Homo sapiens: one gene and its partner. The protein of the gene in region 2 purifies or fractionates together with the protein of the main gene of each other region. This does not show direct contact. Each region holds a gene or a part of one and is shown on either strand. Other genes may lie near its edges.

Region 1 (3,804 bases), on a different chromosome or scaffold from region 2:
GCAAGGGCCCACCTGCTGCCCAAGAGAATGTCAAGGTAAGACTGAAATGAGTGGGCCTCATTATGAGGGAGTGTGTCCAATGTTCCTGGGACCTATGTGTGCAGACTCAGCTGTCATATTTAGACAATCAGGAAATTGCATTTCTCCTTTGATATCAGTTTATGATGAACATGTAAAACCACTGTTTTCTTTGTTGAGTCTGAATAAACATACTTCTGGCTCAATAGAGCAGGGAAGGATATTTATCCCTGGTATTTTCTTCCTGACCTATTTATTATAGTATGGACGAATGGAGAGGAGACCGTGTATGTCACAGTTTTGAGTGAGAAGAGGGATAGGAATGATTGTTTCAGGCAACTGGGACAATGGAAAAGGAAAAAAGAAATCAGCCAAACTGAGAATAAAACTAATGAGGTTGAGAGATCAAGTTCATTTGGCTGGAATAAAATGGGTAGGTGGTAGGATAAACAGAGATGAAAGAGGTGAGGTAGAAAGAGAGATTATGATGTTCCAAGTAACTCACAAATGTTTGCGGCATTTTTTGAGTAGGTTTAAAATACTATATATACAAGATTATAATAACATTAGAGCAAAACAGAATTGGAATTATTTACCTAGGATTTTACTGAGAGGATGGAAAAGAAATGAATTAATTCAATTAAACAAACTTATTAAGTACTTGAAACATGCAAGGCTCTGTGCAGGCCGAAGCCATATAACAAATAAGCCAGCTCCCCGCACCAATTCTTTGGGCATGGAGAGTGGGAGAAGACAACTATAAACAGTGCAACTCCAACTACCAATACAGGCTGAGGGGAAAAGCAGAGAGGATGGAATCACTGACCGGGAGAACACAAGAGGACGAAGGTCCACACTGGAGGACGCTGGGTTTGGCTAGGAAGAGAAGTGGGGAGAAGCATTCCAGAGAAAAGGAAAAGGGAAAGCAAAGGGCTGTGAAAAAATATTAGCTACACTGGGTTCAGAGTAAATTGACAGTTCGAACAATGCCAAGGTTCCAGCCAAAGGCAAGAAGAGTCAGGGAGACTAAGACCAGATGAAACTGATTGCAATGCTAAGCTAAGGGGTCTAGAGTTGATCCTAGAAGCCACACAACCTCTAGGTCAGACAAACAGGGTGCATTTCCAAAGTTAGATCTAGCCGTAGGATGGAAAACAAATGGGAGATTGAAGGCAGAGAGCCTGGTTAGAAGGTCACTTTTACAGTACTCACAGTTTATAGCACAGTACAATATTTAGAGCACATGTTTTGGACTTGGATAGACTTTGGACCCACTGCTTAACTTCTCTATGCCCTAGTTTTCTCATCTGTAAAATGGGAATAAGAGCCCCTAGCCCCTCAAAGAATAACTACATAGAGTAAATGATACAACACAGGTGCTTAGCATAATACTTTAGTATATAGTAAACATTCAGCAAATCAGATGCTTTTATTACAATTGTCACCTGAACTCCTCATAGTTTGTGGTAGTTCCAACAAGCAGAAAAAAAGTCCATTTGTGTGTAAACTTTTTTTTTTGAGACAGGATCTCACTCTGTCACCCAGGGTGGAGTGCAGTGGTGCAATCATGGTTTGCTGTAGCCTCAATCTCCTGGTCTCAAGCTATCCTCCCACCTCAGCCTCCCAAGTAGCTGGGACCACAGGCACACGCCACCAAGCCCTTGTAATTTTTAAAAATGTTTTGTAGAGACGAGGTCTCACTATATTGCCCAGGCTAGTCTCAAACTCCTGGACTGAAGCGATCCCCTGTACCTCATTCTCCAAAGTGTTGGGATTACAGGCATGAGCCACTGTGGCCGGTCTCTGTGTGTAAACTTCCAAAGGGCAAGGACAGACTCTTTCCTCAGGATCCCTCTCAGCATTCAGCTTGGTGCTAGGCACATCCTGGATATCAGAAATGAACACTGACTGATTACAATTCAATCTTATCTTCTACAGGTATAAAAGGTAATATGCAAACATATACCAAAGCAATATACAAGGATGTGGGGCAAGGTGAGTCCTCTACCACAAAAAAAAAAAAAACCCAGAAAATACTTCAATTCCCAGATTCCTCAACTCAAACATCCCAAGCACCTAAAAAACTTATTTCCAAAGCATCCACAATCCCCTCTCCCCTCCACTCACAAATATCTAGAAAAAAGTTATAGTCAGATGAAAGCCACATGTGGTCAAAGGATTTATTTTTATATGTGAGTGATGGGATGGCTGGGCACCAGGTCTCAAGTACCCTCATGCCTATCTTGGGGTATTTCTCATTATTCCCCTCTCTTGCTTTACCTATTTTCACCATCACCATTTGACTCACCCCCACCCAATGCATACATTTTTTAAACCACCACCTAGTTACTATTTCACAGTTCCTACAGGTCAGAAGTCCAGGCACAGCACCGACAGTGCCAGTTAGGGCTGCCTTCTCATCTAGGATTGGGTCCTCCTCCAAGCTTACTGGTTGTTGACAAGATCCACTGCCTTGCAGATGAAGGACTGAGGTCCCCATGTTCCTCCTAGCTGTCAGCTGGGAACCACTCTCAGCTCCTAGAGTTTGCCTGCAGTTCCTTGCCATGTGGCTGTTGGGATCGGCAGTTCACAACATGGACGTCTGCTTGCTTCCAAGCCAGCTGGAACATCTGATTTCCTCTTGTGCAATCAGCTGAGAAATCTCTCTGCTTTGAAAGGGCTAGTTCAATCAAGACAGACCCACCATGATAACCTCCTTTAGATGGCTAAAGGTCAACTGATTGAGACCTTAATTCTATCTACAAAGACTAGCATTTGACTGAATACCTGAAGCAGGTGTGTGTACACCAAACATGGGGAATCTTGGGGAAGTGAGGAGCAGAAGGTGGACTGTAGTAGGCACAACTGCTTTACATTTTATACTTTTGTTTATTGTCCACCTCACCTGGCAGAAGGTAAGCTTTCTGAGAGAAGGCAATTTTGTCTCCTTTCGTTTACTACTGTATCCCTAACACCTGCAACAATGCCTAGTATATGACAGGTGCTCAATAAATATGTGTCAAGGGACCCTTTGGATCAGGGGTCCCCAACCCCTGGGGCCACAGACCGGTACTGGTCCACGGCCTGTTAGGAACCAGGCCACACAGCAGGAGGTAAGTGGCAGGCGGGTACCTGAGCTCTGCCTCCTGTCACATCAGCGGCGGCATTAGATTCTCATAGGAGTGGGAAACCTACGGTGAACCGCGCATGCGAGGCATCTAGCTTGCATGCACCTTATGAGAATCTAACATGCTTGATGTGCCTGATGATCTTTCTTTTCTTTTTTTTTTTTTTTGAGGAGTCTCACTCTGTTCCCCAGGCTGGAGTGCAGTGGCGTGATCTCGGCTGACTGCAACCTCCGCCTCCCGGATTCAAGCTATTCTCCTGCCTCAGCCTCCTGAGTAGCTGAGATTACAGGCATGCGCTGCCACTACCATGCCCGGCTAATTTTTTATTTTCAGTAGAGATGGGGTTTCACCATGTTGGCCAGGCTGGTCTTGAACTCCCAACCTCAGGTGATCCACCCACCTCGGCCTGATGTGCTTGATGATCTGAGGTGGAACAGTTTCATCCCAAAATCATATCTCCCCTACTTCCCCTGTGGGAAAATTATCTTCCACGAAACCAGTCCCTGATGTCAAAAAGATTGGGGACCACTGCCCTAGATCACCATGGTAGGTACTCAACATGCATATGTTTAGTTTGCAGTCTGGAAATGGGACTTCTAACTACATGTATTAAAATTCTGGTTTAGTGAAATTCTACAATTTTATTTCTACCACTTTT
Region 2 (4,427 bases):
ACCAGAAATACCATTCTTGGGGCCAGGGCCTCTGACTGTAACCTGGGAGAGGCAGAGAAAATCGTTTCTCATTGAGAAACCCGGACCAGGCTGGGGCTGGAGGGTCCGCGCCTATAAAATCCTGCCTCACCTCTCCCAGGCCAGGGCTCCCTGGAGACAGGCTGTCAGGCCTCAAAGCACAACAGAAGAACTTGTCAGGGGGCCAAGATCTTAACAAGTTGTTATGGGTATCTGTGAAATCTGAAAAACAAAACCAGGATCGCAGGGAGGATTTTGGGGTGGGTGGTTTTAGTAGGGCTTTTTTTTTTTTTTTTTTTTTTGGTTAACTTAGCGCATTGCAAAATCAAGCTGAGCCACCTACCGCCTCTTTCCAGTGTTTACCTAAGTATGATGTGATCCAACCCCCAGTGGAACCTCCACTGCAAACAAGCAGGCTCTGCTCAGGTTTCTGACATAGGAACGTGTGCTTTGCAGGCTGCAGAGCCTAGCCCTTATAGAATAGTTTCAAGGGACAGGACATTCAGCCTTAAAACTTGAGGTCCAATCCTTTGACAAGACTCTGGCTCCCTGTTAATGGCACGTTCAAAATCCCCAAGGAGTAGGGGAGCTGGCTAGTTAATTTTCTCAATAATTCAGCTCAACAAGAAGGAGGCTGTGCCAATCAAGAGATGACTCCCCTCTCATCCTACATTCCGGTGACCCTTGCCTCTGACAATCTACGTTTTTCTTTCCTTTTTTTTTTTTTTTTTTTTTTCAGGAAGAACAAATAATGAAACTCTGTGGTCAGGGCTGGTTTTATCAAACCTCCCACCATGCCCCTCCCAAGCCCCTACCTCAGGCCTCGCCTGGCTCCTCTAATAACACTGACATCTGACTTTGAAATGGGGGAAACTGCAGCCTTAAAAGCTGGTCTTGGACGAGCTGCCTGTGACCTGAATCTGTTATTTATAAGTCAAAGAGCTGGCTCCGTGAAACGGACCAGAAATATAACAGCCCCCGCTGTCATTTTGTGCCACCGGGACCAAAAGGCCTCCTCGACCTTCCAGAATCACATTTCTAACTCTGGGCCCCAAAGCACCTTTTAATCCGAGCCCTCTAATTGCATGGCGAGCTTTCCCTGACTCACTTTAGTGGACAGCTAAAACGGCAATGCATTTCTTTCTAAGCACAAACCAGCCCCGATTGTCTCTGCTTTTCTCCACACCCGGCCATGCAAAACTTTTCATCCCTTTTCATCCCCGGGCTGCCTGCTGCCTGGTGGGGTGGGGGGCATTTGCAGCCAGGGGCACAACCGCTCCCCCCACCGAGGCTCCCCGCTTGCCCCCGCCCTAACTGCACCGGGGCTTCCCCCTCTGCGACCTTCTCCGCAGTCCCCTCGGCACAAATGGGGCCGAGCTCCAGGCACAAAAGCCAGCCTGGCTCATTCAAGTCCTGAAAAGGACAGCGGAGTCGAAAGCACTTGCAGCATTTTGGCGCGGGCACATTTTTCTCCTTCTTTTAAAGTTCCGAAAGATTTTTCTCTCCCTGATTTTTATATTTAGACAGTGTTAGAGATTTGCAATCTGGGGCCGGGGGGGGGGGCGGATTCCAGAAAGGAGCCATACCCTTTGTTAACTACGACTCTGCCTCTCGGGCGAGGGGTCTGCTGCAGCTGCCAGGCAAGCCGAGAGGCACGGGGCTGTCCCCGAACCGCGGCTTTCTCTGTGTAAATGATGGACCTGTTGAGAAGCCTGCCTTCCGCCCGATTCCGGTGCCCACACAATCGGAAGAGAGGTTGCCTAGCTCTCCCCAGCGAGGCTTCAGCAATCCTGGCAAGCCCACGCCGCCGGTGATGGAAGCGGCCCCAGGGGCCTCTCACGCAGGCACACACACACACAGACACACACACAGATACACACACACTCTCTCTCTCCTCCGGCCCACGTATATCAACAAGCACACACATCTCCATCCACACTGCTAAGCCTACACTCCGATCGTGGGAAACAAAAACATTAAGCAATCACCAAGCAAGTGCCCGCAGAGCCAGGGCCGCGCGCATCTGCCGGGAGGGGGACGCGCGCCCAGAGGCGCTGGGGCCCGATTCCGGAGAGCAGGGGTGGAGGGCCAGGCGATCGGCGGCGGGGGGTTGAGGCAGCAGGCAAGGGTCTGCGGCCTGGGGGAAGAGGACTGCAACCCGGGCGGAGCGCGCAGGGCCACGGCCGAAGGAGCTCTGCCGGGAGTCCAGGCTGCCCCAGGGCGCGCGGGCTGCGGTGGCGGCGGTGGCAGCCGGAGCTAGCAAGGAGAGGGAGAGCGGGAGCGAGCGGGGACCGCGGCAGACAGCCGGAGGGCCGGACCCACCTGTCTCGGCGAAGCTGATGATTTCGGAAACGCGCTCCTGGCCGTCGGCGCCCGGGCTGGCGTGGCCGTCGAGGTGCGGGATCTCCACGCGGCCGTCCTCGCGCACCTTGCCCGCGTGCAGCTTGCGCAGGGCCGTGACCATGGCGGCCTTAGGCACGGCGTGCGTGATGTTGGGCCGGCCCCGCATCTGCAGGCGGCTCAAGATGTGCCGCTTCACCGCCTCCAGGAAGTCGCCGTCCACTCGGCCGAGCTCCTCTGGCCGCCGGAAGCCGCCGCACGACGTACAGGTGTCCTGCGAGCCACCCGGGGATCCGGGTGGCGGGGGTGGCGGCGGCGCGGCAGGCGTCGGCGGGGGCGTGGGTGAGCCCCAGGCCTCAGGCCCCAGCCAGCCGGCCGCCAGCAGCAGAAGGCAGGCGGCCCCCAGCGCCCGACCGGGCAGCCCGTCCATGGTGCGCCGCTGGCGACGAGGGCGCCCGCCGCGAGGCGAGCCGAGTCGAGCCGAGCGCAGGGCCGGGCTCCGGGCTCCGGGCGCGCCGCCCCGCCCCGCCCCCGCCCGCGCCCGCGCCCGCCCGGGCCTCCGCCCGCCCGCCCGCCGGGAGGGCTGCCGCCGGCTCGCAGGGGGAGGGGGCCGGCCGGGCCTCGGGGGTTCCCGCGCGGCAGGGAAGGGGCGCCGAGGGCCCCGGGGGCCCGAGGGGCGCGCCGGGCGGGGCGGAGGTCGCGGGTCACTGCCGCACGGGCGTCTCGGGGCGCCTCGGCATCTGCAGCCTTCTCCCCATCCTTTCCGCGTCGGGGGCCCCGCAGCCCCGGTTCGGGTGAAGCGAAAGCAGCGTCAGTGGGAGCGGCGGTTCGGCCGGCGGCTGGGGAAGGTGGCGAAAGAGCGGGTCCACGCAACTTGGCTGAGACGGAAGCGAAGGCGCTGGAGCCCCCCGGAGCGGAGCCGGGCGCGGCTTGGCGCGGCGCTGCGGCGGGCGCTGCGGCGGGGCCCCGCGCTCGCACCTGAGCGCCTCGCCCTCACTGCCTCGCGCCAGGAAGGGCCGCCGGCGGCGGAGACGGGCAGGTCGTCCTCGCCGCGGGCCGGCGGGCAGTGGCGCGGAGCAAGCTTGGTGCCCGGGAGAGCCGGCCGCGCGGGCCCGCTCACAGGCGGCGCCGAGCCCTCGGCCGCGGGCCCTGCAGTCCTCCCGGCGCGTCACACGGCAAAGTTGTCTCCAGGATCCCTGGGCGCCGCATCCACGGGCGGGCGGCCGCAGCGCGCTTCGCCGGGGCCTCTGCTCCGCCCGCCTCCTCGCAGCCTCCCTCCTTCCCTCCGCCTGCCTGCGCGGCCCGGCCGGGCGCGGGGCGCCGGGCGAGGAAGGCGAGGGGGAGGCAGGGCCCTTCTCGCTCCTGTCTCTTCTGCCTGCCGCGGCGGCGGCGAGGTCGGCTCGAGCGCCGAAAAGTCTCGCAGCGTCCCCGGGTGCAGTGCCCTCGCTCGCGCTCGTACTGGCACCCGCCGCAGGGCCGGGAGAGAGCGGGCGGGCGGCGGCGGCGTCCCCGCGCCGGGCCGCGGCACGGAGTGCGGAGCTCGCCGAGGAGGAGTTCTTCTCTTTGGTCTCTCTTCTTTTACTCTCCCCGTTTTTTCTCCCAAGGGGGAAAAAAGCCGCACAATCTCCGTATGTGCGCGCGCGTTGAGATAGACGTTGGCAGAAAAAAGGGGGGGAGGGAGGGTGTCGTCCTGCCCGTGCGAGAGGAGACGGTCCGTACCTCCCCGCTCGAGCTTCCCGGGGTGGGGGGAGGAGGAGAAAGCGGAATCTGTTCAGGTTGGGGCTGCCCGCTCCCCGCGCTCACCCCTGCTTCCCACCGCTTTTTTCCTTTCTGCCTTCCCGAGAAGGAGGGGCGAGCCGGCCCTCTCCCCTCCCCTCCTCTCCCCTCCCACCCCCCGCAATGCCGGGCTACTTTTGCTACCTCGAAACTTTCCCACCACGTGGGCGCCCCGGACCCTTGCCCAGCTGGGCGGCCGGCGGCACCGACGGGTTCCAGGCGCTGGACCCAGGCGCTCCTCCCGGCCCACTCCCGCCTCCCCGCCGCCGCGCAGGCCCTGCCTCTGTCCCAGC

Evidence for each region.
Region 1: the proteins of INHBB (region 2) and ACVR1B purify together in Homo sapiens (affinity purification with western blotting, with the first as the bait; one study listed by BioGRID). This does not show direct contact.

The regions. Positions count from the first base shown.
Region 1 is NC_000012.12:51,958,154-51,961,957, reverse strand, and holds part of ACVR1B (activin receptor type-1B isoform a precursor), read right to left. Parts: intron 2,699-3,804; exon of another isoform or gene 2,468-2,698; intron 1,903-2,467; exon of another isoform or gene 1,771-1,902; intron 1-1,770. UniProt on the Homo sapiens protein: Transmembrane serine/threonine kinase activin type-1 receptor forming an activin receptor complex with activin receptor type-2 (ACVR2A or ACVR2B).
Region 2 is NC_000002.12:120,344,550-120,348,976, reverse strand, and holds the start of INHBB (inhibin beta B chain preproprotein), read right to left. Parts: upstream 2,842-4,427; 5' UTR 2,789-2,841; coding exon 2,341-2,788; intron 1-2,340. Other genes in the region: translation initiation factor IF-2-like, read right to left, coding at 3,063-4,090. UniProt on the Homo sapiens protein: Inhibins and activins inhibit and activate, respectively, the secretion of follitropin by the pituitary gland.